2 separate regions of the Homo sapiens genome follow, and region 2 is linked to region 1. The links come from fine-mapping of genetic effects on gene expression. A gene starts in region 1. The other region holds a variant in brackets. All regions are shown on one strand. Distances are between the middles of the regions. Region 1 holds the start of VSTM1 (V-set and transmembrane domain containing 1). Region 2 overlaps VSTM1 (V-set and transmembrane domain containing 1).

Region 1 (15,897 bases):
CTCCTGCCTCAGCCTCCCAGGTAGCTAGGATTACAGGCCTGCACCACCCATCCGGCTAATTTTTCTATTTTTAGTAGCGATGAAGGTTTCACCGTGTTGACCAGGCTGGTCTTGAACTCCTGACCTCAGGTGATCTGCCTGCCTCGGCCTCCCAAAGTGCTGGGATTACAGGTGTGAGCCACCGTGCCCGGCCCTCCTTTGCCTTTTTGTTATACTACATCCTTGGAAAATTTCTAGGCTGTTTTTGAAAATTATGAATCTACCAGCACCAGATTCCTTCTACCAGTCTTTGCATCTCTTAGCGTTTTGGTTTTTTGTTTTGTTTTGTTTCATTTTGTTTTTGAGACAGAGTCTCGCTCTGTTGCCCAGGGTGGAGTGCAGTGGTGCGATCTCAGCTCACTGCAACCTCTGCCTCCCGAGTTTAAGCAATTCTCCTGCCTCAGCCACTTGAGTAGCTGGGATTACATGTGCCCGCCACCACGCCTGGCTAATTTTTGTATTTTTAGTAGAGATGGGGTTCTGACCATGTTGACCAGGCTGGTCTTGAACCCCTGGCCTCAGGTGATCCGCTCACCTCGGCCTCCCAAAGGGCTGGGATTGCAGGTGTGAACCACTGTGCATGGCGTGTTTTGTTTTTTCTTGGTGTTAGTGATTTCACTCTCAATAATTCTTTCTCAGTCATGTGTGGTGGCTCAGGCCTGTAATCCCAGCACTTTGGGAGGCTGAGGCTGGAGAATTGCTTGAGCCCAGGAGTTTGAGACCAGCCTGGGCAACATAGTGAGACCCAGTTTCAAATTTAAAAAAAAAATTATCTCATCCTCAGAACATGGTGTTTGCACAGCCTCCTGCTTCTATGCCGTGGATGCGAAGTCTACCCATGTCTTTTATTGACTGCTAGAATTCTTCTGAAAGTATCTTGTTTCCTGCCTTACTGGGTGCTAGCACTCTGCTTCCTCAGCTCTGTAAATTATTTTTCATCTGTTGTAACTGCTGTAATGAGTTACATTACAGCTCTTGCCGGGTGCCTGGATGAAGCCCATTCATCAAGACAGAGGAATTGCAAAAAAGAGTTTAATACACATTGAGCCAGGTAAGTGGGAGACCAGAGTTTTTTTGTTTGTTTGTTTGTTTGAGACGGAGTCTTGCTCTGTTGCCCAGGCTGGAGTGCAGTGGCGCGATCTCGGCTCAATGAAACCTCTGCCTCCCAGGTTCAAACGATTCTTCTGCCTCAGCCTCCCGAGTAGCTGGGACTATATGTGTGCCACCCTGCCTGGCTAATTTTTGTATTTTTAGTAGAGATGGGGTTTTACCATATTGGCCAGGCTGGTCTCGAACTCCTGACCTCGTGATCTGCCCGCTTGGGCCTCCCAAAGTGCTGGGATTACAGGCATGAGCCACTGCACCTGGCCAATCAGAGTTTTATTATTACTCAAATCAGCCTCCCTGAAAATCTGGAGGCTAGGGTTTTGTTTGTTTGTTTGTTTTCTTTGAGATGGAGTCTCACTCTGTCGCCCAAGCTGGAGTGTAGTGGCACAATCTGAGCTCACTGCAGCCTCCACCCCCCAACCCCAGGCCCAGGTCAAGTAATTCTCCTGCCTCAGCCTCCTGAGTAGCTGGGATTACAGGCACCCGCCACCACACCCGGCTAATTTTTTTGTATTTTTAGTAGACATGGGGTTTCGCCATGTTGCCCAGGCTGCTCTCGAACTCCTGGCCTCAAGCAATCCTCCCACTTTAGCCTCCCACAGTGCTGGGATTACAGGCGTGAGCTACTGTGCCCGGCCTCAACTCAAACTTTCTCAGGTGCACTGCTGCACAGCAGTGTGTGCTGCGAGGATGCTGATCCAGCCACGGAATTCGGGGCTCTGTAGAGCTCCTTCCGTCTCATGTGCTGCCCCAAGACTATTCCTTAACATAAGGATGCGGGAGGAGAAAAGGCAATGTGGGAAGGTGGAAATGGGATAAAGAGCAAATAAACGAAGGAAGAGAGCTAAGGTGGAGTGAATATCAAGGAAGGAAGATAAAGGAACTCCCATTACAACTCATTAGGATTGCATATCTTGGCCGGGCGCGGTGGCTCAGGCCTGTAATCCCAGCACCTTGGGAGGCCGAGGCAGGCGAATCACTTGAGGCCAGGAGTTCGAAACCAGTTTGGCCAACATGGCGAAAACCCATCTCTATTAAAAATACAAAAATTAGCCGGGTGTGGTGGTAGGTGCCTGTAATCCTAGCTATTCGGGAGGCTGAGGCAGGAGAATCGCTTGAACCCAGGAGGTGGAGGTTGCAGTGAACCGAGACTGCGTCGCTGCACTCCAGCCTGAGCAACAGAGTGAGACGTCGTCTCAAAAACAACAACAAAGATTCCATCTTTTGTTTTCAGGGATTAAAACTTTAAAGAGCTCAATTATGGCCAGGCATGGTGGTTTATGCCTATAATCCCAACACTTTGGGAGGCCAAGGCGGGTGGATCACCTGAGGTCAGGAGTTCGAGACCAGCCTGACCAACATGGAGAAACCCCGTCTCTACTAAAAATACAAAATTAGCCGGGTGTGGTGGCACATGCTCATAATCTCAGCTGCTTGGGAGGCTGAGACAGGAGAATCACTTGAACCCGGGAGGCAGAGGTTGTAGTGAGCTGAGATTGTGCCATTACACTCCAGTCTGGGCAACAAGAGCAAAACTTGATCTCAAGAAAAAAAAAAAGTTCAATTAAAACTTTAAAGTACAGTGGACTACTGGCTAGAAAACATTAAGTGGGTGGCCGGGCGCGGTGGCTCACACCTGTAATCCCAGCACTTTGGGAGGCTGAGGTGGGCGGGTCACCTGAGGTCGGGAGTTCAAGACCAGCCTGGCCAACATGGCGAAACCCCGTCTCTACTAAAAATATAAAATTAGCCGGGCATGGTGGCACATGCCTGTAATCCCAGCTACTTGGGAGGCTGAGGCAGGGAGGCTTGAACCTGGGAGGCAGAGGTTGTGGTGAGCTGAGATTACACCACTGCACTCCAGCCTGGTCAACAAGAGTAAAACTCCGTCTCAAAAAAAAAAACCAAAAAACCGAAAACATTAAGTGGGTGATGATAGTCAGATTTGGTGGGGCCATTTGAGAAGGAGGGATACCCTCTGAGGGTCAGTGCTGAGCCCCTTCTCTCTTTCAGTTCCCCCAGGTACCACATCGAGCAACTACTCCCTGGGTAACTTCGTACGACTGGGTCTGGCTGCCGTAATTGTGGTTATCATGGGAGCTTTCCTGGTGGAGGCCTGGTACAGCCGGAATGTGTCTCCAGGTGAATCAGAGGCCTTCAAACCAGAGTGACTCCATCTTGAACCGGGGCTGGGTAAACTGAGGCTGCAACCTGCTGGACTGCATTCCCAGGGGGTTGAGGCTTTCTAAGTCACAGGATGAGACAGGTCACAACATACAGGTCACAAAGACCCAAAGACACAAAGATGCAACAAAGAAGCCAGCCAAAACCTGCCAAATCCAAGATGGCAACAAAAGTGACTTCTGGTCGTCCTCACTGCACATTATTTGCTAATTATAATGCATTTGCATGCTAAAAGACACTCCCACCGCCACCAAGACAGCTTACAGATGCCATGGCAACTTCCAGAAGCTAAACGAGGGAGGGACTCTCAGTTCCAGGGAAATCCCCTCCCCTTTCCTGGAAAACTCATGAACAGTCCACCCCTTGTTTAGCATACGATCAAGAAATAACCACAAAAATAGCCGACTGACAGCCCTCTGGACTGCTCTGCCTATGGAGCAGCCATATTCCTTGACTTTCTTAATAAACTTGCCTTCACTTTACTCTGTGTACTCACCCTGAGTTCTTACTTGTGTGAGATCCGAGAACCCTCTCTTGGGGTCTGGACTGGGACCCCTTTCCAGTAACAGATCCAAGTTAAAACACGGATCCCCTCTCTCTTTCATGGGCTGCTGTAGAGATATGGAATTCTCTTCTGCTCCAGATTTATTGAGATCTAATCGACAAATAAAAATGGAGTTATATTTGTGTACAACGTGATGTTTTGATATATTCCATTTTGATTTATCAATTATACCCCCATAAGCCTACGGGTGGGGAACCCTCCTACTAAGTAATTTATTGTGTACCAAGGAAGAAATTTCACTGATTGTGACATGAGTATCACAATGTAGCTAACGAACCTTTCTGTTTAAGATCCACCTTCTGGGAACCTCCCTACTAAATAATTAATTGTGTACCAAAGAAGAAATTTCACTAATTGTGACATGATTATCACAATGTAGCTAATGGACTTTTCTGTTTAAGATCCACCTTCTGGGAACTTTCCTACTAACTAAGTAATTAATTGTGTGCCGAGGAAGAAATTTCACTCATTGTGACAATGGTTATCTCAATCTAGCTTATGGACCTTTCTGTTTAAGATCCACCTTCTTAGCAAATTGTAATTACCCAGTGCAGCCTTGTGAACTGTAGCCGCCCTGCTGTGCATTCAATCCATATGGGGTTCTTTAAACATCAGACTCTACCATGGGGACTTCACACGTTTCTCCACATGGGCACAAATGGTATTTTTTGTTTTTTTGTTTGTTTGTTTGTTTTGAGACAGAGTCTCGCTTTGTCGCCCAGGCCAGAGTGCAGTGGTGCGATCTCGGCTCATTGCAACCTCCGCCTGCCAGGTTCAAGTGATTCTCCTGCCTCAGCCTCCCAAGTGGCTGCAACTACAGGCACCTGCCACCATCTGGCTAATTTTTTTGTATTTTTAGGAGAGACGGGGTTTCGCCACATTGGTCAGGCTGGTCTCGAACTCCTGGCCTCAAGTGATCCACCTGCCTCAGCCTCCCAAAGTGCTGGGATTACAGGTGTGCACCACCGGGCATGGCCACAAATGGTGTTTAAAGTGCAATAGTCCTTCACCATGTGAGACTGTCTTGTCCATTATAGGAACACGTAACTCGACATTGCTAATACTTCCTTTCCCATTGAACACCTGTTGGAGACCTAATTATTGTGAAACAACAACAACAAAAAAGCCACTACTCTCATACCTTTCAAATATCCCTGGATGGGGCGATGGGAAGTGAGGGTGGTGCTCCCCCTGGTTGAAAAGCTGTGTTTGGATGCCGGGAGAAAACAATCTTCCTCCTCTTCCTTCCCCTCTAAGCTCAGCTCTGTTCTTCTCTAGCCATAGATCCCACAGCTGCCCAGGGAATGATGGGTTGGACCAGCTGAGCCTTAACCGCTTTCTGTGGAACCTGCACTCTCAGCTCTGTTGGGATCTGCTGTAGGGCAGGATGGTGGCTTTCTTCTTCCTGTACTTTTCACTGGGGACAGAGGACAGAATTGGGCACAATGAGCCACGTAATACTTTTTTTTTTTTTCTTTGAGACGGAGTCTCGCTCTGTCACCCAGGCTGCAGTGCAATGGCAAGATCTCGGCTCACTGCAACCTCCACCTCCTGGGTTTAAGCGATTCTCCTGCCTTAGCCTCCCAAGTCGCTGGGATTACAGGCGCCTGCCACCATGCCCAGCTAATTTTTGTACTTTTAGTAGAGATGGGGTTTCACCCATGTTGGCCAGGCTGGTCTTGAACACCTGAGCTCAAGTGATCAGCCCACCTCGGCCTCCCAAAGTGCTGGGATTGCAGGCTTGAGTCACCGTGCCCAGCCCTTAATACATTTTTGATAACTTGAATCAATACTTAAAACTTCAGAGTCAGATTGAGTAGTAGGTGACTCTCACCTGCGGGGAACTCTTCCTCCACACGAAGGGAAAAACATTGCTTCCTGTGTAATATTTATTAATACTTCCTCTCCGTTCTTTCTATTTTGTGCTTCTGGACCAGCATTTAGTCCAATATTGGGATATACATATTTATTTATTTATTATATTTATTTATTTTGAGACAGGGTCTCACTCTGTCGCCCAGGCTGGAGTGTAGTGGCTAGATCACGGCTCACTGCAGCCTCGACCTCCCAGGCTAAAGTAATCCTCCCATCTCAGCCTTCTGAGTAGCTGGGACCACAGGTGTGTGCCATCATGCCGGACTAAATTTTGTATTTTTTGTAGAAGCCGGGTTCCACCATATGGCCCAACTTGGTCTCGAACTCTTGGACTCAAGTGATCCTCTCATCTTGGCCTCCCAAAGTGCCAGGACTACAGGCGTTAGCCACTGTGCTTGGTCATATGTATTTATAATACATTCTTTCTTTCTTTTTTTTTGGAGAGGGAGTCTCACTCTGTCACCCAGGCTGGAGTGCAGTGGCGTAATTTCAGCTCACTGCAACCTCCCTCTCAGGTTCAAGTGACTCTCCTGCCTCAGCCTCTCAAGTAGCTGGGATTACAGGCGCCCACCACCATGCCTGGCTAATTTTTGTGTGTTAGTAGAGACGGGGTTTCACCATGTTGGCGAGGCTGGTCTCGAACTCCTGACCTCAAGTGATCTGCCCACCTTGGCTTCCCAAAGTGCTGGGATTACAGGCATGAGCCACCACGCCCAGCCTGTATTTATAATACATTTCTTTTACATTTTATTTTATATGTTTCCAACATTTTACCCAGTTTGGCAGGAATTCCATTCTATCCATGGCATCCATTTGCTTGTAATTGGTAGCCAGTCTTACTGGTGCAGATGTAAAATGTCAACAGTTGCCAGGTGCTGTGGCTCATGCCTATAATCCCAGCACTCTGGGAGGCCGAGGTGGGCGGATCACAAGGTCAAGAGATCGAGACCATCCTGGCCAATATGGTGAAACCCCATCTCTACTAAAAATACAAAAATTAGCTGGGCGTGGTGGTGCATGCCTGTAATCCCAGCTACTCAGGAGGCTGAGGCAGGAGAATTGCTGGAACCCGGGAGGCAGAGGTTGCAGTGAGCCGAGATCTCACCACTGCACTGCAGCCTGGGCGACAGAGCGAGACTCCGTCTCAAAAAAAAAAAAAAAAAAAAAGTCAACATTTATGTTTTGTTGTTACATTTTGTTTTCAAGATTTGTTGCTGTTTCTTGTTAATAGTCTTATTATTTTTCGTAAATATCATTCTTATTTTATAACTATTGTCTCCTCTGTTATAACTCTGAGGATGTGCTTATCAAAGCAATATTCCTCCTCTTCCTCCACTAACCACAGGTTGGTCCTTCTCTATCCACAGACCACACAGCTGCCAAGGGTAGCATGCGCTAGAGCTGCCGATCCTTAGAGTTTCCTGTGCAGCCAGCATTTCCAGCTGTTTGAGAGCCGCACCAGGACAGGACGATGGCTTTCTTCCCATCCTCCTCACTTAGGACAGGACGGGGTGGGCACAGGGACCCATCCAGCAAGTTATTATTTTTGTAGTTATTAAGATAGAAAGTATAGGCCGGGCATGGTGGCTCACACCTGTAATCCCGCCTCAGCCTCCCAAAGTGCTGGGATTACAGCGGTAAGTCATCATGCCCAGACGATTATTTTTTATTTGTATACGTTTATGGGGTACAAGTGTAACTTTATTGCATGGATAGATTCCAAAATGATGAAGTTAGGGCTTTCAGGTATCCACTAACCCAGTGACACACATTGTATCCATTAGATAATTCTTTTTTTTTGATGGAGTCTTGCTCTGTGACCCAGGCTGGAGTGCAGTGGCGTGATCTCAGCTCACTGCAACCTCCGCCTCCCGGGTTCAAGCGATTCTCCTGCCTCAGCCTCCTGAGTAGCTGGGACTATGGGCGTGTGCCACCACGCCCGGCTAATGTATCCATCATCATAACACACAACCATTTGAATGAATCTCACAGGCATTGTGCTGAGTGAAAAAGGTCACCCTCAGAAGGTGAGGCGATGGACGATTCCATTTATACAAGAGTCTCAAAGTGACAAAGTGATAGAGACGTAGAACAGATTAGCAGGTGCTAGGGTGGGAGAGCGATTATAAAGGGGCAGCATGAGGGAGTTCCTACGTGGTGGTGGGACAGTTCTGTGTCTTGATTGTGGCGGTGGTTCTATAAAGCCATACATACAGGCAATAAAATGTTACAGAACTATACCCATAGGCAAAGAAAAGGGAGGAGGAAAAGAAGGTGGAAGAGGAGGAAGAGCAGGAGAAAAGAAGGAAAAGGAGAAAAGGAAATAGAAATAGAAGGAAGAGGAAGAGAAAAAGAGAAACGAATTATGCACAAACTGGTGAGATCTGAGTGACCTCTGGAACCTGGTTAAACGTGTGATGCCAGTGCAAAGTCTCTGGTTTTGAAAATGTGCCATACGCCGGGCGTGGTGGCTCACGCCTGTAATCCCAGCAGTTTGGGAGGCCGAGGCAGGCGGATCGCCTGAGGTCAGAAGTTCGAGACCAGCCTGGGCAACATGGCAAAACCTCGTTTCTACTAAAAAGAACAAAAAAAATTAGCCAAGAGTGGTGGCGGACACCTGTCATCCCGGCAACTCGGGAGGCTGAGGCAGGAGAATCGCTTGAACCCGGGAGGCAGAGGTTGCAGTGAGCCAAGATTGTGCCACTGCACTCCAGCCTGGCTGACAGAGATTCTGTCTCAAAAAAAAAAAAAAAAAAAAAAAGTACTGTAATTATAAGAGATTACCATTGGCCGGGCACAGTGGCTTATGCCTGTAATCCCAGCACTTTGGGAGGCTGAGGTGGGCGGGTCACTAGAGACCAGGAGTTCAAGACCAGCCTGGCCCACATGGTGAAATCCCATCTCTACAAAAAATTAGCTGGGTGTGGTGGTGCATGCTTGTAATCCCAGCTACTTGGGAGTCTGAGGCAGGAGAATCCTTAAACCCATGAGGCAGAGGTTGCAGTGAGCCGAGATCGCGCCACTGCACTCCAGCCTGGGTGACAGAGCAAGACTCTGTCCCCCCCGCCCCCCAAAAAAAGGTTAACATTGTGGGGAGCTGGCTAGTGGGTACACGGAAGCTATAAAGCTATAGGTATTAATGTTTGTTTGTTTGCTTGTTTGAGACAGTTTCACCGTTGTTGTCCAGGCTGGAGTGCAGTGGCACAATCTTGGCTCACAGCAACCTCCGCCTCCTGGGTTCAAGCCATTCTCCTGTCTCAGCCTCCGGAGTAGCTGGGATTACAGGCATGCGCCACCATGCCTGGCTAATTTTGTATTTTTAGTAGAGACGGGGGTTTCTCCATTTTGGTCAGGCTGGTCTTGAACTCCCGACCTCAGGTGATCCGCCCGCCTCAGCCTCTCAAGGTGCTGGGATTACAGGCGTGAGCCACCGCGTCCGGCCGGTATTAGTGTTTTAAAATAAAAAATTACATTTACAGAAAACTCTTGGCAGAACTTCAGATAAGGTAGGACAGAGCTCGGGCGGGTGGGGCCACACACACCGGATTCATGGGGAAGAAGTTATCATCGACGGCTTCTTGTTTCCTGAGTCGGTTGTGAGAAGGAAACTGCAAGAGTGGGGCAGAGAACCAGAGTGTCAGAGCAAAACCTCCTCTATCTGCACATCCTGGGGACGAACCGGGCAGCCGGAGAGCTGCGGCCGGCCCAGTCCCGCTCCGCCTTTGAAGGGTAAAACCCAAGGCGGGGCCTTGGTTCTGGCAGAAGGGACGCTATGACCGCAGAATTCCTCTCCCTGCTTTGCCTCGGTGAGTCTCCAGGACTGGGACGAATGGGCTTGGGCTGGTGAGAAAAACTCATGTGGGAGTGGCAGTCCAGGTGGAAATGCGGTGTGTGGAAGTAATGACTTCCAGGTGTTGCACACCTGCGGTGGGTGGGTCTGGGCTGTGGGTTCTGTGAGTTCTGCCGCCCACATGCAAGCGAGGAGGAGGCCGCGCTGCAGAGACACGGGGACAGACTCCGCTGGGAAAGGCAGAGCTGCTGTGGGGTCTCCGAGTCTGCAGCCGCTAAATACCGCAGTACTGCCATCATCCTCCGTCGGAATAGAGGAGGGCTGGGCTTAGGGATCTACAGGGTGCAAGGCTGTGGGCAAAAAGACAATTTTCTTCTCTCTCTCTCTTATTTATTTATTTATGTATGTATGCATTTATTTATGAGACAGAGTCTCACTCTGTAGCCCAGGCTGGAGTGCAATGGCGTGATCTGGGCTCACTGCAACCTCCGTCTCCCAGGTTCAAGCGATTCTCCTGCCTCAGCCTCCCGAGTAGGTGGGACTACAGGTGCAGGCCACCACACCCGGCTGACTTTTGTATTTTAAGTAGAGACGGGGTTTCACCATGTTGGTCAGGCTGGTCTCGAGCCCCTGACCTCAGGTGATCCGCCCGCCTCAGCCTCCCAAAGTGCTGGGATTACAGGCGTGAGCCACCACACCTGGCCCCAAGAAGACAATTTTCTGACCAGCTCGATTCTTAGGCTGATTTTAACCATCCTCCAATTGAACCTGATGTATTCAGACAGAGCTCACACTGTGAAACGGATGACCTGGGTTATAATCTCGGCTTTACTACATAGAAACTCTAGGCTTGACCCAGCAGAGCTCCACCTCCCTAAGGCCCCAGTTCCTCCCTGGTGCACGGGGGGTGCGGTGGACATCGACGTGCTTCGTCTGCTTCAGTTCCTTCCTCCTTTTCTGGGTGCAGCCCTTCCTTGTGGGGTAATGCTCGTCTCCTACACACATTTGCACCTTAGATGAGCATTTTTTTTTTTTTTTGACAGAGTCTTGCTTTGTCTCCCAGGCTGGAGTGCAGTGGTGTGATCTCAGCTCACTGCAACCTCCACCTCCTGGGTTCAAGCGATTCTCCTGCCTCCGCCTCCCGAGAAGCTGGGATTATAGGCACACGCCACCACGCCTGGCTAATTTTTTGTGTTTTTAGTAGAGATGGGGTTTCACCATGTTGGCCAGGCTGGTCTCAAACTCCTGAACTCAGGTGATCTACCCACTTCAACCTCCTAAAGTGCTGGGATTACAGGTGTGAGCCACTGCACCCGGCTATTTGTGCCTTAGAGATGACTATCGGGTTCATACCCAAGCCTCCAGCTGCTGAGCACAGTAAGCTGGGCAACCAGGAGACTGACCTCATCCCCCAATGGCTGCCATACCAAAGTACTACAAGCCTGGTGGCTTAAAGGAATTAGAATTGCTTTAAGTTGGGGAGATGAGAAGTCTGAAACCAAGGTGTTTGCAATGTTGATTCCTTCTGAGAACTATGAAGGAGCGTCTGTTTTATGCCCCTCTTCTAGTGATGGCTGACAATTCTTGGCATTTTTTTTTTTTCTTGAGGCGGAGTCTTGCTCTGTCACCCAGGCTAGAGTGCAGTGGCATGATCTTTCTCACTGCAACCTCCACCTCCTGGGTTCAATCAATTCTCCTGCCTTAGCCTCCCAAGTAGCTGGGATTACAAGCATGGACCACCATGCCTGGCTAATTTTTGTATTTTTAGTAGAGACAGGGTTTCACCACGTTGGCCAGGCTGGCCTCGAACTCCTGACCTCAGGTGATCTGCCCGCCTCAGCCTCCCAAACTGTTGAGATTACAGGCGTGAGCCAGCGCTCCCGGCATTCTTTAACTTGTAGATGCATCACTCCAATCGTTGGCTCTGTTTTTTTTTTTCTTTTCTTTAGACAGGGTCTCACTCAGTTGCCCAGGCCGGAGTGCAGTGGTACCACCATAGCTCACTGCAGCCTCAACCTCCTGAGCTCAAGCAGTCCTCCCCGCAGCCTTCTGAGCAGCTAGGACTACAGGTGCACACCACCATGTTGGACTAATTAAAATAATTTCTGTTTTAGAGATGGGATCTTGCTATATTGCCCAGGCTAGTCTCCAACTCCTGGGCTCAAGCAATTCTCCTATCTTGGCATCCCAAAGCACTATGATTGCAGCCTGGCCTCTCTGCCTCTGTCTTCGCATGGCCGTCTTCCTTCTGTGTGTCTCTGTCTCTCTTTTTCTCTTCTTGTAAGTTATATTGGATTAGATACCCAGCCTACTCTAGTATGACCTCATCTTAGTTTAATTAATTACATCTGCAAAGATCAGACAATGCTATTTTCAAATAAGGTCACATTCGCAGGTCCTGGGAGTTACAACTTGAACTTCTCTTTTCAAGAAACACAAATCAGCCAGGTGTGGTGGCTCACGCCTGTAATCTCAGGACTTTGGGAGGCCCAGGCGGGCAGATCTCTTGAGGTCAGGAGTTTGAGACCAGACTGGCCAACATGGTGAAACCCCGTCTCTACTAAAAATACAAAAATTAGCTGGGCATGGTGGCAAGGACCTGTAATCCCAGCTACTCGGGAGGCTGAGGCAGGAAAATCGCTTGAACCTGGGAGGCAGAGGTTGCAGTGAGCTAAGATAGCACCGCTGCCCTCCAGCCTGGGTGACAGAGGGAGACTCCATGTCAAAAAAAAAAAAAAAAAAAGAAAAGAAAAAGAATATGGGAATTGGGCTGGGTGCAGGTAGCTCACACCTGTAATCCCAGCATGTTGGGAGGCCAAGGTGGGAGAATCACTTGAACTCAGGTGTTCGAGACCAGCCTGGGCAACATCGTGAGTCCTCATCTCTACAAAAAAATTTTAAAATCAGCCAGCGTGGTGGTGCATGCCTGTAGTCCCAGTTATTTGGGAGGCTGAGATGGATGGATCACTTGAGCCCAGGAGGTTGAGGCTGCAGTGAGCTGTGACTGCACCCTGGCACTCCAGCCTGGGCCACAGAGTGAGACCCTGTCTCAAAAAGAAAAAAGAATATAGGAATCACTGTTTGAACAGACGATGGGTGGATAGCAGAGATGAGATGACATGAATCTAAAAGCGGGATTTGGGGAGGGTCTCAAAACAGAGCCTGAGTCCTGGGATGCCCTGCCCACCCAGAGGCTGTTTCCTACCTGCCAATCCCAGCTAATCTCGCTGCCAACGCAGCTTCGGTCCATCGTGAGGCCTCCACCTCATTCCTCTGTGGTGAAGCTTGGTGGGGGGTCACGTTCTGTATCGGCACCTGTGTCAACAAGGAACCAATGTCCTGAGACACTGTCGTGGCTCTAGAGAATTTCTACCTAAATTCTACGTAACTTCACCCTGAAACAAGCCCCATGACTGACATCCCATTTTCCACCCAAGTTTAAGACGCTACCTTCCCAGCGGGGAATGTAGAGAACAGAACACAGAAGAGGGAGGGGATAATGTAAGTGGAAACCAAAGCTAAAGTGAGGAGAGTATTTGGGACCAGAAGACACGGGGAAGGGGGAGCAGATTCTCTCTATTGGAATTGAGCAAGAAAACCCTCCTCTCGGCCGGGCGCGGTGGCTGATGCCTGTAATCCCAGCACTTTGGGAGTCCGAGGCGGGTGGATCACGAGGTCAGGAGATCAAGACCATCCTGGCTAACACAGTGAAACCCCGTCTCTACTAAAAATACAAAAAAATTAATTAGCTGGGCTTGGTGGCGGGTGCCTGTAGTCCCAGCTACTCGGGAGGCCGAGGCAGGAGAATGGCGTGAACCCGGGAGGCAGAGCTTGCGGTGAGCCGAGATCGCGCCACTGCACTCCAGCCTGGGTGACAGAGCGAGACTCCATCTCGAAAAATAAAAAAAAAAAAAAAACCCACCACTCTCACTCCACGATAAAATAACCTTTGCATTATTTAAGTGGCAAGGGTAAAACTGCAATCAGGCCGGGCACGGTGGCTCATGCCTGTAATCCCAGCGCTTTGGGAGGCTGAGGCGGGTGGATCACTTGAGCTCAGGAGTTTGAGACCAGCCTGGGCAACATGGTGAAACCCCATCTCTACAACAACAACAACAAAAATTAGCTGGGCACGATGGCACACACCTGTAGTCCCAGCTACTCTGGAGCCTGAGGTACGAGTATCACTTGAACCCAGGGGGTGGAGGAGGTTGCAGTGAGCTGAGACTGCACCACTGCACTCCAGCCTGGGTGACACAGCGAGACTCTGTCTCAAAACAAAACAAAACACTGCAATCACAGAAAATACCAGAAAAAAGCATAGGTGAATGTTGAACAATTTCTAGATGGTGAAAGGATTACTCATGAAAGCAATTCAATACATCAGAAAAGGTTGCTGGGCCGGGGGCAGTGGCTCACGCCTGTAATCCCAGCACTTTGGGAGGCCGAGGCGTGTGGATCACCTGAGGTCAGGAGTTCAAGACCAGCCTGGCCAACATGGTGAGACCCTGTCTCTACTAAAAATGCAAAAATTAGCCAGGTGTGGTGGCGGGTGCCTGTAGTCCCAGCTACTCGGGAGGCTGAGGCAGGAAAATTGCTTGAACCTGGGAGGCGGAGGTTGCAGTGAACTGAGATCATGTCATTGCACTCCAGCCTGTGCAACAGAGCAAGACTACATTTCAAAAAAAAAAAAAAAAAAAGAAAGAAGAAGTTGCTGGAATTTTCTCCATACACGTAGCTTCTGAATGACAAACAATGGAACAAAAGTAAGAGGTAAGTCTGGGGAGATATCTGCCAAAAATATATACATATATGTAATACATATATTTAATATATATATTATATTTATATATGTATTATATGTAATATGTGTACATATACTTAATACATTTATTATATATAATACATATATACATTATATATATATATATATCTCAGACCTATAAAGAGCTAGTCATACGTTCTCTGCTGGATTTGTACTCAAGGACAAGCACATAATTTTTCTCTCATTGAGATTTCTCTTCCAGGGCTGTGTCTGGGCTACGAAGATGAGAAAAAGAATGGTGAGTTTTCTCCTACTTAAACTTTTATTCCTGCATCCCACGCTTCATGACCTTTTCCTTTAATCGTCTGAATTCTAGACTCAAATTAACTCTGAATTGTTTCCAGAGAAACCGCCCAAGCCCTCCCTCCACGCCTGGCCCAGCTCGGTGGTTGAAGCCGAGAGCAATGTGACCCTGAAGTGTCAGGCTCATTCCCAGAATGTGACATTTGTGCTGCGCAAGGTGAACGACTCTGGGTACAAGCAGGAACAGAGCTCGGCAGAAAACGAAGCTGAATTCCCCTTCACGGACCTGAAGCCTAAGGATGCTGGGAGGTACTTTTGTGCCTACAAGACAACAGCCTCCCATGAGTGGTCAGAAAGCAGTGAACACTTGCAGCTGGTGGTCACAGGTGAGAAGGGCAGATGTACTCTTTGATGCACACATTTCTTTGGTTTGGCTTTGCTTTTTTTTTTTTAAGACAGAGTCTTGCTGTGTCTCCCAGGCTGGAGTGCAGTGGCACGATCTCGGCTCACTGCAACTTCTGCCTCCTGGGTTCAAGCAATTCTCCCTCCTCAGCCTCCCGAGTAGCTGGGACTACAGGCGCCCGCCACCACGCCCAGCTAATTGTTTGTGTTTTTAGTAGAGATGGGGTTTCGCCATGTTAGCCAGGATGGTCTCCATCTCCTGACCTTGTGATCCACCTGCCTCCGCCTCCCAAAGTGCTGGGATTACAGGCATGAGCCACCGCGCCCGGCCTAATTTTTGTATTTTTAATAAAGATGAGGTTGTACCATATTGGTGAGGTTGATCTCAAACTCCTGACCTCAAGTGATCCATCTGCCTCGGCCTCCCAAAGGGCTGGGATTATAAACGTGAACCTCCACACCCAGCCTTTTTTTTTTTTTTGAGAGGGAGTCTTGCTCTGTTGCCCAGGCTGGAGTACAGTGGCATGATCTCAGCTCACTGCAACCCCCGCCTCCTGGGTTCATGCAATTCACCTGCCTCAGCCTCCCGAGTAGCTGGAACTACAGGGGTGCGCCACCACACCTGGCTAATTTTTGTATTTTAGTAGAGACAGGGTTTTACCATGTTGGCCAGGCTGATCTCGAACTGCTGACCTCAAGTGATCTGCCCACCTCAGCCTCCCAAAGTGCTGAGATTACAGGAGTGAGCCACTGCGCTCGGCTGCTTTTTTTTTTTTTGACAGAATCTCGCTCTGTCACCCAGGCAGGAGTGCAGTGGCATGAACACAATTCACTGCAGCCTCGACCTCCCAGGCTCAAGCGATTTTC
Region 2 (15,897 bases), 25 kb after region 1:
TCAAGACCAGCCTGGACAACTTGGTAAGATCCCATCTCTACAAAAAATACAAAAATTAGCCAGGCGTGGTGGTGTGCACCTGTAGTCCCAGCTACTTGGGAGGCTCAGGCAGAAAGATCGTTTGCGCCCAGGAGGTTGAGGCTTCAGTGAACTGTGATTGCGCCACAGCACTCCAGCCTGGGTGACAGAGCGAGACCCTGTTTCAGTAAATAAATAAAATAAAAGTAAAATATCTGTAAGCACAGGTATGATGTCCCCAGCCTGTATTTATATGCCTAAAACACACTAGAAAACGACTCTATGTTCAATCGCAATGTAGAGAATGAAGATGAATTTTATCACACAAGACTTGACTTTCTTTCTGGTGCCTGTGCCTCCATTTATGCCCCGTGTCAGGCTGTATCTTGTTGCTCACGCTGACTTTAGTAGCGTAGCAAGTTATGATTTATTCTGGCAATTTGCAAATACTGATGCAACATTTGGCCAGGATCTGTGGACATCTCAGGGTGAACCCAGTTCAGCTGATTATGGGGTCATATGAAGATGAGAATTTTGCAATAATGTACTTCTCATTTCTAGTGAATTGCTGTGTGAAAGATACCGTAGGCTGGAAAAGGGGAGAACAGAAAGGACAAGGCAAGGCTGCTGTTTCTCTGCTTCCATCTGGGGAAACTGAGAGTCCAGGAGCAGCTGTTCCTGCCCTGTTTTCATAAGTCCTTGGAGATGCACTGATAGAATTGTTGCTTATGGCCAGGCATGGTGGCTTATGTAATCCCAGCACTTTGGGAGGCCAAAGTGGGCAGAACACTTGAGCTCTGGAGTTTGAGACCAGCCTAACCAACATGGTGAAACCTCATCTCTACTAGAAATATAAAAAATTAGCGGGGTGAGGTGGCGGGTGCTTGTAATCCCAGCTCCTTGGGAGGCTGAGGCAGGAGAATTGCTTGAACCCCAGAGGGGGAGGTTCCAAAGCCGAGATTGTACCACTGCACTCCAGCCTGGGAGACAGAGTGAGACTGTCTCAAAAAAAAAAAAATTGTTGCTTTTGAGGGGTTCTCTGATTCAGCTCCACCAGAAGCAGGCTCTTAGACAGCATTAGTGTGAAAGTGACGTTTTATTTTATTTATTATTTATTTAGTTTTGAGACAGAGTTTCGCTCTTGTTGCCCAGGCTGGAGTGCAATGGCGTGATCTTGGCTCACTGCAACCTCCGCCTACCAGGTTCAAGAGATTCTCCTGCCTCAGCCTCCCAAATAGCTGGGATTACAGGCATGCACCACCACACCCAGCTAATATTCTATTTTTAGTAGAGACGGGGTTTCTCCATGTTGGTCAGGCTGGTCTCGAACTCCTGACCTCAGGTGCTCTGCCTGCCTCGACCTCCCAAAGTGCTGGGATTACAGGTGTGAGCCACCACGCCTGGCTTGAAAATTACATTTTAGGGAGTGGGGAAGAAGGGCTGGGAGGAAAATAGATTAAACAAGTGTGGGATATCTGTGTCCCTCAGATGGTATCTTTGGCTCCATCCTGCAGAAAGCAGTGGAGACAGAGAAGGTCGAAGACCAGAGGCTAGGGAGCTGGGGTCCCCACAGCCGTCAGTGGCAGTTTGTCCCGGGCATGTAAATTCCAAGGCATTTGGAGTTCTCCCAGGCAGTCCCCCAAAGAAGAGATACAAATGTTCACTTTGGAAAGGGAAAGAAGCCACGATCTAGAATGCATAAAAATGGGAAAGGGATCTGGGGAACATGGGTTGAGGAACATTGACAGAATCTATTACAGAGAGAGATGGGTGTAGGTGGAATATTGGGTGAAAAAAAATCATCATTATACCTACAATCCCATTATCCGACACAATGAGTCAGTTTCTAGACTGAGCGCTTTAAAGCCAGGATTTTTCATCATTACCTAACTCTTCAAGTTAGATATTATTAGCTCTCTGCCCCCTCCTTATATTTAACCAAAAAATAACGTATTCCAGAAAGGGAAGGGAACATTTACAAAGTCAGGAGGTAGGAGACCCAGTACTAGAACTCAAATATGTCTTGTTTCAAACTCCCCACTCCTTTTGCTGCTCCCTGATGATCAGCTCAGAAAGAACCTTATTTCAGGGAGGGGGATAGATAGATAATTAGATGTGATAGATAATAGGCAAGTAGGCAGATAAATAGATAACTAGATATGATAGATTAGATAGATACATAGATGATAGGTAGATAAGTAGCTAGATACGATGGACAGATTAGATAGATAGACAGATGATAGGTAAGTAGGTAGATAGATAACTAGATACAACAGGTTAGATAAGTAAGTAGATAGATAACTAGATATGATAGATTAGATAGATAAATAGACGATAGGTAAGTAGGTAGATAGATACAGATAGATTAGCTAGCTAGCTAGATGATAGATAACTAGATATAATAGATAAGATAGATGATTAGATAGACAGATAATTAGATATGATTGATAGATACATTAGATAGATGATAGATTAGATAGATAGATGATAGGTAACTAGGTAGCTAGATAAAGCTAGCTAGATAGATAGATAGATATACAGATACACAGATAGATACATAGATACCTAGATAGGTGATAGAGTTGCAAGATAGAAAAATTAGATAAGTAGGTGGATAGATAGATAGATAACTAGATAGAATAGATTAAATAGATAATAGTAGGTGAATAGACAGATACATACAGATGATAGATGATAGATGATAGATAACTGGTTATGATTGATAGATACATTAGATAGATGATAGATTTGGTAACTAGATGATAGGTAAGTCGGTAGATAGATAAGTGATAATTAGATATGATAGGATGGATAGATTAGACAGACAGCAGGTAAGCAGGTGGATAGACAGATAAAGATAGATACATAGATGCCTAGATAAGTGATAGATTAACAAGATAGAAAAATTAGACAGACAGATAGTTAATTACATATGATAGGATAGATAGATTGGATAGGTGATAGGCAAGTAGGTAGATAGATAAATCATAATTAGATAGGACGGATAGATTGGATAGATGATAGGTAAGTAGGTACAGAGACAGATAAAGATAGATAGGTAGATAGATAATAGATACCTAGACAGATGGTAGATAGATTAGCGAGATAGATAAATTAGATAGGTAATTCTCTATATATAGATATGTAGAAATGCCAATGCAAACATAGCGAACCAAGTAGGGGAAGCGTCTGGATGGGAGACCCTCTGTTGGTGCAGAGGACCAGGCGTGTGAAGCATCTCAGACTTGGCTCTGTAATGTGACCACAGATCATTGCACACCTAGGAAAAATTCTCAGACTCAAAGCACACTAACAAAGATAGCGGGGGTCTTGGTGAAGCCCCTTTCTGGGGCCTCACTTCTATAGTTGCTCAACTTTTTTCCTTAATCACGTTTCTGCTACTTACTCCTTAAAGTCTCACGACTTGTGTTTCTTGAATCTAAAGTGCCAAGAAAAACAAAAAACGGGGGGGAACTGCATGGACTCTGTCGCCTAGCTTTAGTAACAGGTTGCTCTCTCTTCCTCAACGCTGTGAGCTTTGGACACAACCCTTGCTGTAATCCCAGGAGTCACACGGGAATGCATGCCCTTCACCAGTGGGAGGGAAATAATTGTACTACCTTGCAGGGTTGTTGTTAAGACTTTAAAACGCTATGATGTAGACTTGCATGGCAATATTGCTCAAGAACTAGTTTTTTTTGTTTTGTTTTGTTTTTGTTTTTTAATTGGTAGAAATTTTATCTCCTGAGAGGGATGCTTTTTTGAGTTGGAGTCTTGGTCAGTTGAGTGTATGATGCAGTGATGCGATCTCGGCTCACTGCAACCTCCGCCTCCCAGGTTCAAGCAATTCTCTTCTCTCAGCCTCCTGAGTAGCTGGGACTACAGGCGTGCGCCACCATGCCCAGCTTATTTTTTATATTTTCAGTAGAGACAGGGTTTCACCATGTTGGCCAGGCTGGTCTCGAACTCCAGACCTCAAGTGATCCACCTACTTCACTCTCCCAAAGTGCCAGGATTACAGGCGTGAGCCACCGTGCCCGGCCACTGGTCATTCTTTTCTACCCTGCTCTAACCCTGTTCTTATTAGGAATCCTCCCTGAATTCTCCCAGCTGATCCCTTGTTCTGTGTCTTGGGGAATCATGTCTCCTTCAGAGAGCCCCACCCCTCCCCACTCTAAACGCCTTCCATGCCCGTGTCACTGCTGTTCATTACCTGGCATCAACGAGCTCATTGAAGTGTGTTTGAAGTTGGCTGGGCGTGGTGGTCTGTACTCCCAGCTACCCTGGAGGCCGAGTGAGGAGGACCACTTGAGCCCAGGAATTCGAGTATGATCACACCACTGCACTCTAGCCTGGGCAACAATGGGAACCCATTGGCACATCTGGGATTGGCATCCTGAGCTCCCATCTGTGACCTCCCTCCTCTCCCCTCCTCTCCCCTCCATTGCCCTCACCCTCTCCCCATAATCTTCACATCCCGTCCTTTCACATCTCTCTCTCTCCTTTAAAAAAAGAAAAAGGAAATATGTTTGAAGTTAAGAGCTGAGATCATGTCTGTGTTAGCCAGGGTTTTCCAGAAAAACAGAACCAATAGAACATATAGATATAAGCTGGGTGTGGTGGCTCACGCCTGTAATCCCAGCACTTTGGGAGGCCGAGGCAGGCAGATTGCCTGAGGTCAGTAGTTCAAGACCAGCGTGGCCAACATGGCGAAACCCCGTCTCTACTAAAAATACAAAAATTAGCCGGGCGTGATGGTGGGCACCTGTAATCCCAGCTACTCAGGAGGCTAAGGCAGGAGAATTGCTTGAACCCGGGAGGCGGAGCTTGCAGTGAGCCAAGATTGCACTATTGCACTCCAGCCTGGACGATAAGAGTGAGACTTTGTCTCAAAAAAAAAAAAGAGAACATATACATGTATATACATATATGGAGAGAGAGATTGATTTTAATGGATTGGTTCACGTGATTGTGGGGAGCTGGCAAGTCTGAAATCTGCAGGGCAGGCAGGCAGGGGATCCAGGGGAGACTTGATATTGCAGCTTGAGTCTGGAGGCAGAATTCCTTCCACCTTGGGGGACCTCAGTCTTTTCTCTTAAAGTCTTAAAGTCTTCAACTGATTGGATGAGGCCCACCCCTATGACAGTGGGTCATCTGCTTTACTCAAAGTCTATTGGTCGAAATGTCCAGCTCCAAGGAAGTTCCAGCTCCAAGGTGGGAGATCCAGGCTTGGAAGCCAGGCCATCTGTCTGGCTTCTCTTAGCTTTTCTACTCACCCCATCAGTGGATTTCAGACAGTGATTACACAGACAGATGTGGTGGCTCACGCCTGTAATCCCAACTACTCAGGAGGCTGAGTCAGGAGAATTGTTTGAACCAGGGAGGTGGAGGTTGCAGTGAGCCAGGATCACACTCCAGCCTGGGTGACAGAACACGACTCCATCTCAAAAAAAAAAAAGTGTGTATATATATATATATATGTATATATATATATATATATATATATATATATACACATTTATATATACACACACATATATATACATTTATATATATATATACACACACACACACGTATATATATATATGGAGCACCTGGAACAGAGCTGGCTCACAATAAATGATCAATATCATTGCTATGCACCAAACATTCCCTGGGAATTTTTGGAATTTCCTATGCGCCAAGCACTGTTCCAGCCCTTTCTATAGGTACTGACCCACCATCCAATAAAGTAGCTACTGCTGCTATCCTCACTTTACAGATGGGGAAACAGAAGCTTGGAGAAGATTAAGGAAATTCCCCAAAGCAATAGGAAGTTCCAGCTCCGAGGTGGGAGATCCAGGCTTGGAAGCCAGGCCATCTGTCTGGCTTCTCTTAGCTTTTCGGCTCGCCCCTATCAGTGGATTTCAGGAGCCAGGCTGATTCCCTGACCTGCTCTTCCCCCTCCAGACACCAGAACCATCTTTGTCGCCATCTTCAGCTGCATCTCCATCCTTCTCCTCTTCCTCTCAGTCTTCATCATCTACAGATGCAGCCAGCACAGTGAGCTCAGAGAACGCAAAGGGAGAGAGGGGGAGTGAAGGATTTTCTCGGTAGGTAAATTCCTCCTGCATTTTTTGTAGGTTCATCATCTGAGGAATCCACCAAGAGGTAGATGCTTGGCATAGCTCATGCTCCACTTATTCCCATGTCATTCTCAAGGGAACCCATTGGCACATCCGGGATTGGCACCCTGAGCCCCCACCCCAGCCCATTCTGTGACCTTCCTCCTCTCCCTTCTTCTCCCTTCCTCTCCCCTCCATTGCCCTCACCCTCTCCCCGAAATCTTCACATCCCATCCTTTCACGTGTGTCTCTCTCTTTCAGAACCAGCCATTCCAAACTTCCGGAGCAGGAGGCTGCCGGTAAGGGACAGGGGAAGTTTAAGGGAATCACCGGATAGAAAGACTAAGTTCTGACTTCTGCAGCTGAGAACTGATTTTTTTTTTTCCTTTCTCACTCAGAGGCAGATTTATCCAATATGGAAAGGGTATCTCTCTCGGTGAGTCCTCCCGCTTAGGAGTCCCACAAGAGCTCCCTCACCACAATGGGCTGGTCGTGTGTGCCTCCTGGTTAAGCCCATACAGAAATGTATACTGTTTATCACGCATGTGGTCTTAGACAAGTCACGAAACTCCCCTAATGGGAACCAAAATCTCCATTTAAAAGGCTTATGCATGGGCCGGGCGC[G/A]GTGGCTCACGCCTGTAATCCCAGCACTTTGGGAGGCCGAGGCGGGCGGATCATGAGGTCAGGAGATCGAGACCATCCTGGTTAACATGGTGAAACCCCATCTCTACTAAAGATACAAAAAATTAGCTGGGCGTGGTAGTGGGCGCCTGTAATCCCAGCTACTCAGGAGGCTGAGCCAGGAGAATGGCTTGAACCCGGGAGGCGGAGGTTGCAGTGAGCCGAGATCACGCCACCGCACTCCAGCCTGGGCGACAGAGCCAGACTCTGTCCCAAAATAAATAAATAAATAAAAATTTAAAAAAAATGAAAAAAGGCTTACGCAGATCCATTGATGTCACAGGCATAAAGGGTTATAAAAACAGAAAAGAAAAAGAAATGCATCTGGTGTGACCGAGGACCTGGGTTTTAAATTAAATTTAATTGTAATTAACTTAAATGTCAATAGCCATGTGTGGCTAGTGGCTGCCATATTGAACACTCAGTTCTAATATTCATCTATTTTCTCCAAAGACGGCAGACCCCCAAGGAGTGACCTATGCTGAGCTAAGCACCAGCGCCCTGTCTGAGGCAGCTTCAGACACCACCCAGGAGCCCCCAGGATCTCATGAATATGCGGCACTGAAAGTGTAGCAAGAAGACAGCCCTGGCCACTAAAGGAGGGGGGATCGTGCTGGCCAAGGTTATCGGAAATCTGGAGATGCAGATACTGTGTTTCCTTGCTCTTCGTCCATATCAATAAAATTAAGTTTCTCGTCTTAAAAAGAAATCTGACTTATTTATGGATTATTCATGCCCAAGAACCCCACCATACTCTTTCTACCCCACATTTCCTCCTAGAACAATTCAAGGAAATAATAAATAATGATTGACCAGCTATCCAGGAAAGAATGTAAGAATTACTGAGCATCTCCAGGAAGCACAACAAGCAAAAAAGAAAACGGCCGGGCTCACGCCTGTCATCCCAGCACTTTGGGAGGCCGAGGTGGGTGGATCATCTGAGGTCAGAGTTCAAGACCAGCCTGACCAACATGGTGAAATCCCATCTCTACTAAAAATAAAAAATTAGTTGGACGTGGTGGCAGGCGCCTGTAATCCCCGCTACTTGGGAGACTGAGGCAGAAGAATCGCTTGAACCCAGGAGGCAGAGATTGCAGTGAGCTGAGATGGCGCCATTGAATTCCAGCCTGGGCAATGGAGTGAGACTCCATCTCAAAAAAAAAAAAAAAAAAAAACAAAAAACGCCCAGAGCTGCAAACTCCTAGACCAGAGGGCAGAAAACAAAAGGACCAGAGAGTAACACGTCCAGCTTTGTGGGCTGTAGGATCTCTGCTGAGACTACCCCACTCTGCTGTTGTACCATGAAAGCAGCCATCGCTGATATGTAAACAAGTAGGTGTGGCGGTGTTAGAATAAAACTTTATTTACAACTTCATGTTCTCACTCATGTAGGAGCTAAAAAAGTAGATCTCATGAAGGTAAAGAGAGAGTCAGTTATCAAAGGCTAGAAGGGGTGGGATAGTTAATGGGCACAAACACAGTTGGATAGAAGGAATAAGTTCAAGTGTTCAATAGCACAGAAGGGTGACTATAGTTAACAGCAATATATTGTATATTTCAAAATAGCTAGAAGAGAAGATTTGAAACATTCCCAACACAAACGATAAATGAGCCAGGTGCAGTGGCTCACTCCTGTAATCCCAACACTTTGAGAGGCCAAGATGGGTGGATCACCTGAGGTCAGGAGTTCAAGACCAGCCTGGCCAACAAGGTGAAACCCCATCTCCACTAAAAATACAAAAATTAGCTGGGTGTGGTGGCGCACACCTGTAATCCCAGCCACTTGGGAGGCTGAGGCAGAAGAATTGCTTGAACTCGGGAGGCAGAGGTTGCAGTGAGCCAAGATCACACCACTGTACTCCAGCCTGGGCGACAGAGAGAGACTCTGTCTCGAAAAGATAAAAAAAAAGATAAATGTTTGAGGTGGTGAATATCCTAAATACCCTAATTTGAGTATTATACATTCTGTGCATGTATCAAACTATCACATGTATGTCATAAATATGCATAAATATTATGTATCTATAGAAAGTTTTTTTTTTTTTGATGGAGTCTTGCTCTGTCGCCCAGGCGCCAGAGTGCAGTGGCGTGATCTCAGCTCGCTGCAACCTCTCCCCGCAGGTTCAAATGATTCTCCTGTCTCAGCCTCCTGAGTAGCTGGGATTACAAGCTTCTGCCATCACACCAGGCTAATTTTTTTGTATTTTTAGTAGAGATGGGGTTTCACCATGTTGGCCAGGCTGGTCTTGAGCTCCTGACCTCAAGTCATCCGCCTGCCTCGGCTTCCCATAGTGCTGGGATTACAGGCGTGAGCCACCGTGCCCAGCCCAGAAAGTTGTTTTAAAAACAAAAAATTTTATTTGCAAAAACAAGCTGTGGGCTCTAGCGTGCCAACCCTTGTGCTAGGCCAGTGCTTTTTAAAGTCTGCTTGGGCCATCACCCCAACCACTTCTGGCCCTGATGAGGGTCCAGGGCATGAGAGGGAAGGAGAGAGTGTCTTAGTCCATCCAGGCTGCTATCAACATACCAAAGACCTGGCAGCTTACAGACAACACATAGTTATTTCTCATGGTTCTGGAGGCTGGAAGTCCAAGACCAAAGCACTGGTAGATTCAGTGTCTGCTGAGGGCTTTTTTCCTGGTTCATAGCTGGCACCTTCTTGCTGTGTCCTTACATAGTGAAAGAGACTGGGCCGGGCGCAGTGGCTCACGCCTGTAATCTCAGGACTTTGGGAGACCGAGTGGGGGGCGGATCACCTGAGATCAGGAGTTCGAAACCAGCCTGACCAACACGGTGAAACCCCATCTCTACTAAAAATATAAAAATTAGCTGGGCGCAGTGGTGGGTGCCTGTCATCCCAGCTACTTGGGAGGCTGAGGCAGGAGAATTGCTTGCACCTGGGAGGCGGAGGTTGAAGTGAGCCGAAATCGTGCCACTGCACTCCAGCCTGAATGACAGAGCCAGACTCCATCTCAAAAAAAAAAAAAAAAAAAAGAGTGAAGGCTTAATAAGCAAAAGAAAGAGAAAAGAGAATAGTTCTCTCTTTTGCACAGAGAAGAGAGGGGTTCCCGAGTGGGACCCCTGGTTTTGTGGTGAAATGCATGGGGCTTTTATAGACAAGCTTGAGGAGGTGCTGTCTGATTTACATAGGGCCTGAGAGATTAGTCGGACCAGGTATGACGTTTGCATAGCCCCCAAAGAAGCTGGCCATCCCACCCTAATCTTTTATTACGTAGGTAGGGTCTCTGCCTGGCCGGGGCCATGTTGTCTGCTTTTTTACTGCACATGTGGGGACAAAGAAAAGGGAAGAGGGAACCTCCATGTTGAATATACCCGGCTCCCAGGCATCCGTTTTCTATTGGCACAGCTGATGCAAGATTTTAGCTTGTTTATCTATGCTTGCAGCTTGATGTTTCAGGCTGCTTTCTGTTAGAAAAGAAATTATTTGGGGGCTGCTCTTTATTAATAGGAAACCTTACTGAGGACTCTCTTACCCTCACTGTCTGCCTCAATAATTTCTTTTTAGCTCCCGTATTACAAATACCATCACCTTGGGGTTAGGTTCCAACAGCTGAATTTTGTCGGGACACAAACATTGAGTTTACAATACCCATGAAGCTGTCTCTGCTTGTATCTTGTCCTAACCAGAAGCTCCCAGGATTGCTGCATCTGAAGGAACAACCTTGATATATGGCTTGTGTCTGTGTCCCCACCCAAATCTCATCTTCAGTTGTAGCTCCCATAATTCCCATGTGTTGTGGGATGGACCCAGTGGGAGATAATTCAATCATGGGGGTGGATTCCTGCAGGGTCCTATGGGGCTTTGCAGGTGTTCTCCCCGTGTGCAGAGATAAGAGATTGTAAGAAATAAAGACACAAGACAAAGAGATAAAGAGAAAACAGCTGGGCCCGGAGGACCACAACCATCAAGACGCGGAGACCGGTAGTGGCCCATAACGGCTGGGCGCGCTGATACTTATTGCATACAAGATAAGGGGGCAGGGTAAGCAGGGTGAATCTTCGAAGTGATTGACAAGGTGAAGCAAGTCGTGTGATCACAGGAGAGGGGGCCCTTCCCTCTTAGGTAGCCGAAGCAGAGAGAGAGGGAGAAGGCAGCATACGTCAGCGTTTTCTTCCATGCACTTATAAGAAAGATCAAAGACTTTAAGACTTTCACTATTTCTTCTACCGCTATCTACTATGAACTTCAAAGAGGAGCCAGGAGTACGGGAGGAGCATGAAAGTGGACAAGGAGTGTGAGCACTGAAGCACAGCACCACAGGGAGGGGTTTAGGCCTCCGGATGACTGCGGGCAGGCCTGGATAATATCCAGCCTTCCACAAGAAGCTGGTGGAGCAGAGTGTTCCCTGACTCCTCCAAGGAAAGGAGACTCCCTTTCACCGTCTGCTAAGTAACGGGTGCCTTCCCAGACACTGGCGTTACCGCTTGACCAAGGACCCCTCAAGCGGCCCTGATGCACGCGTGACAGAGGGCTCACCTCTTGCCTTCTAGGTCACTTCTCACCATGTCCCTTCAGCACCTGACCCTATACCCGCCGGTTATTCCTAGGTTATATTAGTAATGCAGCAAAGAGTAATATTAAAAGCTAATGATTAATAATGTTTATAATAATGATTGATAATTGTCCATGATCATCTCTACATCTAATTTGTATTATGACTATTCTTATTCTATTTTCTTTATTATACTGCAACAGTTTGTGCCTTCAGTCTCTTGCCTCAGCACCTGGCTAATCCTCCACCCACACATTCCCCCATGCCGTTCTCATGGTAGTGAACAAGTCTCAGGAGAGCTGAGGTTTTTATAACGGGTTTCCCCTTTTGCTTGGCTCTCTCATTTCTCTGTCGTCTGCCACCATGTAAGATGTGCCTTTCACCTTCTGCCATGATTGTGAGGCCTCCCCAGCCATGTGGAACTGTAAGTCCGTTATACCTCTTTTTTAAAAAGTAAACTGACTGGGCGCAGTGGCTCACGCCTGTAATCCCAGCACTCTGGGAGGCCGAGGCGGGTGGATCATGAGGTCAGGAGATCGAGACCATCCTGGATAACACAGTGAAACCCCGTCTCTACTAAAAATACAAAAAATTAGCCGGGCGCGGTGGCGGGCGCCTGTAGTCCCAGCTACTCAGGAGGCTGAGGCAGGAGAATGGTGTGACCCCGGGAGGCGGAGCTTGCAGTGAGCGGAGATCGTGCCACTGCACTCCAGCCTGGGTGACAGAGTGCGTCTCAAAAAAATAAATAAATAAAAATAAAAATAAAAATAAATTACTCAGTCTCAGGTATGTCTTTATCAGCAGTGTGAAAACAGACTAACGCAAACTTCTTCGCTCCCCCTCCCCTCACTACACAGTCCCAGGTTGCAGTGTGGAGGCCACATAGGGAGTAGCAAGGTGGGGAGGAGTGTCTCTTTGTTTTCTTGCCACAGAGAGTCATTCTTTTTTAAGCTTGGGAGTTCTTGGTGGCCATCTGTCTCGCCATGTGGAGGAAGCCAGTCTTTATGGAGAAACACAAAGATGACTCAGGGAGCATCCGGGAAGCGGGAGTGAGTAACAGTGCTTTCAGCTTTTGTTTTCTTGGTTCTAATTGCTTCCAAAGCTCAGCATTCCTTCACTCCCTGCAGTTTTCTTGCCCAATCCTTCTTGAACCAAAAAAACCCAAAAAGTCCTCCTTTGATTCTAAGCTATTCTGAGAATGGATTTTGTTTTGATTGAAGGGTCCTGGCAAACATTATTAAAATGGGTGGCCCTAATGGATATCCTTTATGGACATCTATGCTGGTAGTCACACTCACTGAATTACCATAGTGAGGACTCAGCTCTGATTTTTTTTTTTTATCTTGCCCAGATTCTTATCTAAGGGGTCTGGGGTCTCATGCCCTACAAACCATAAATTCTCATCAGATGGGTTTTATTTAGCCCTATATATCGTGACTTACTTTCCAATCTGACTCTGGCATAACATTACCTAACAAAGAAGAAAATAAAAATATTTTACCCCAAAACATGTTTCTTTGCCATATTTTTAAATGGCCCTGCAAAGCTGTCCTTGGTGGGGGGGAATATTTGCATATGTAAAGGATCTCTGTTAACATTGCTAGATCTTTTTCCTCCAGGACCTCCCAATCCTGAGGAGGTTAACTGAGAATCTAGCAACTTTTGAAGGTCTGAGTAGGAAACATTTGTCATCTATTGTCTCTAAGGGCAGCCACTATAAGACTTCAAAAGAACCTTGGTCTCCACAATCTTTTATCTTAACCTGAATATTTCCTCTCTATTAATCCCAGGTCTTTAGACAAACTCAACCAATTGTCAACCAGAAAATGTTTTAATTTACCTAAAGCCTGGAAGGCCCTGCCTCCTTCAAATTGTCCAGCCTTTCTGGACCAAACCAATGTATTTCTCAAATGTGTTTGATTGATGCCTCACGCCTCCCTAAAATGTATAAAACCAAGCTGCCCCCCGACCACCTTGGGTACATGGTCTCAGGACCTCCTTAGGGCTGTGTCAGGGGCCATGGTCATTATCATATTTGGCTCAGAATAAATCTCTTCAAATATTTTATAGAGTTTGACTCTTTTTGTCAACAAGAGTAAGTCTTGATATGTGATACGATCTGAGGGAGGCTCGGATCCACAGCTGGGGTTTGGACAGCTGTAGCATCACCCTGGGAGCTCCCGCCCCAACTCGGAAGGGGCAGGGCTCCCTGCGGCTCCATAGCGTGTATAGCCCGGGCTGGGCCTCCCTGGGGCAGGTGGCGTCATGGCAGCAGCAAGCCGTCTGGAGTGGCTGCTGCCATCACCAAAGGCCCAACCTCTCAGATCACATTGGGTGTCAAGATTTAACATGAGGCCGGGCGCGGTGGCTCACGCCTGTAATCCCAGCACTTTGGGAGGCCGAGGTGGGTGGATCATGAGGTCAGGAGATCGAGACCATCCTGGCTAACATATCTCTACTATAAATACAAAAAATTAGCCAGGTGTGGTGGCGGGTGCCTGTAGTCTCAGCTACTCGGGAGGCTGAGGCAGGAAAATGGCATGAACCTGGGAGGCGGAGCTTGCAGTGAGCCGAGATCCATCATTGCACTCCAGCCTGGGTGACAGAGCAAGACTCTGTCTCAAAAAAAAAAAAAAAAAAAAAGATTTAATATGTGGCCAGGCGCGGTAGCTCACACCTGTAATCCCAACACTTTGGGAGGTCAAAGTGGGAGGATCATGGGGTCAAGAGATCGAGACCATCCTGGCCAATATGGTGAAACCCTGCCTCTACTAAAAATACAAAAATTAGCTGGGAATAGTGGCACACGCCTGTAGTCCCTGCTACTCAGGAGGCTGAGGCAGGAGAATTGCTTGAACCCAGGAGGCAGAGGTTGCAGTGAGCCGAGATCACACCATTGCACTCCAGCCTGGGCGACAGAGGGAAACTCTGTCTCAGAAAAAAAAATAGAAAAGATCTAACATATGAATCTGTGGAAAGCACCGCCATGCAGCACAGGCCCAGGATTTGAAGTAAACTGAAGAGGCTCAACACATGTGGAGGTGGCTTTGTAAATAACTTCAGGAAACTAACTGAGGGTCATGTACCAGCAGGAGCAACTTCATAAAGGGGCCATGGAGAACCTGAGTTCCTTGCTGTTAAAAAGGAATATATAAATCCTGTTAGTTCAGAGAAAGCACAGATCATCAGTCTGATGAGGATAGGGCTTAATTATGGGCTGAATTACATCTCCTCAAAATTCGTGTGCTGAATCCTAACTCCCAGTAACTCAGAATGTGACTGTATTTAGAGACAAGAGGCCGTTGTGAAAAAAGGAAATTTGGACATAAAAAAGACACTAGGGGCTACGTGTGGTGGCTCACGCCTGTAATTTCAGCACTTTGGGAAGCCCAGGTGGGCGGATCGCCTGAGGTCAGGAGTTCAAGACCAGCCTGGCCAACATGGCCAAACCCCATGTCTACTAAAAATACAAAAATTAGCTGGGCGCGGTGGTGCACGCCTGTAATCCCAGCTACTCGATAGGCTGAGGCAGGGGAATCGCTTGAATCCAGGAGGCAGAGGCTGCAGTGAGCTGAGATCGTGTCATTGCACTCCAGCTGGGCAACAGAGTAAGACTCCAACTCAAAAAAAAAAAAAAGAAAAGGACACCAGGATATGTACATCCAGAGGAAAGACCACGTGGAGACACAGCAAGAAGGCGGCCATCTGCATACAAAGCAGAGAGACCCCGGGAGAAACTGACCCTACTGGCACCTCCATCTTGGATTTCCAGCCTGCAGAACGGTGAGAAAATCCATTTCTGTCCCATAAGCCCCCCAGTGGGGGGCATTTTGTTATGGCTTCCCTAGCACACAACTGTAGGTGGTAAACATATTTTAAACATTATAGTGATCATTTGTAAAAAAAAAAAAAAAAAAAAATTCAAAGAAATATATTTTCTACAGCTTCTCTTTATGATACCCTATGTTCCAAAGGCTACCTATTGTATTTTCTAGAAGACTATAAGAATTTTTCACACATGCTGGGGCCTGTCAGAGGGTGGAGGGTGGTAGCAGAGAGAGGATCAGGAAAAATAACTAGTGGGTACTAGGCTTAATAACTGGGTGATAAAATAATCTGATAATCAGGAAGTAGTAAATACACTAGAAAAAAAATAATCTGTACAACAAACCCCCATGACACACGTTTACCCGTGTAACAAACCTGCACATCCTGCCCATGTACCCCTGAACTTAAATGTCAAAAAAAAAAAAAGAATTTTTCTAGTATCATGCCAGGCTCTGTGGTTCATGCCTGTAATCCCAGCACTTTGGGAGGCTGAGGCAAGTTGATTGCTTGAGCATAGGAGTTCGAGACCAGCCTGGGGAAAATGGTAAAACCCTGTCTATACTAAAAATACAAAAATTAGCTGAGCATGGTGGTGCATGCTTGTAGTCCGGGCTACTCTAGAGGCTGAGGCAGGAGGATCGCTGGAGCCCAGGAGGTGGAGGCTGCAGTGAGCCATCATTGCACCACTGCACTCCAGCCTGGGTGACAGAGTGAGACCCTGTCTCAAAAAAAAAAAAATCAATTTTTCTAG

Evidence for each region. PIP is the estimated chance that this variant, and not a neighbour inherited with it, causes the effect.
Region 2: its variant is fine-mapped to the expression of VSTM1 in whole blood (TOPMed, PIP above 0.99).

What each region holds. Positions count from the first base shown.
Region 1 is chr19:54,057,423-54,073,319 of GRCh38, reverse strand. It overlaps VSTM1 (V-set and transmembrane domain containing 1), which reads left to right and starts at 9,423. Exons shown (of 9, transcript NM_198481.4): 1 at 9,423-9,576; 2 at 14,588-14,623; 3 at 14,730-15,014. The coding sequence starts at 9,543. TARM1 (T cell-interacting, activating receptor on myeloid cells 1) reads left to right here. Exons shown (of 5, transcript NM_001135686.3): 5 at 3,160-3,425. The coding sequence ends at 3,317.
Region 2 is chr19:54,032,441-54,048,337 of GRCh38, reverse strand. It overlaps VSTM1 (V-set and transmembrane domain containing 1), which reads left to right. Exons shown (of 9, transcript NM_198481.4): 5 at 5,969-6,061; 6 at 6,142-6,169; 7 at 6,385-6,422; 8 at 6,522-6,559; 9 at 7,258-7,513. The coding sequence ends at 7,377. Among named protein-coding and RNA genes, the nearest start is that of VSTM1, 24 kb to the left of the region's middle. RefSeq lists an enhancer at 11,878-12,453. The variant G/A (reference allele first, on the strand shown) is at 6,748.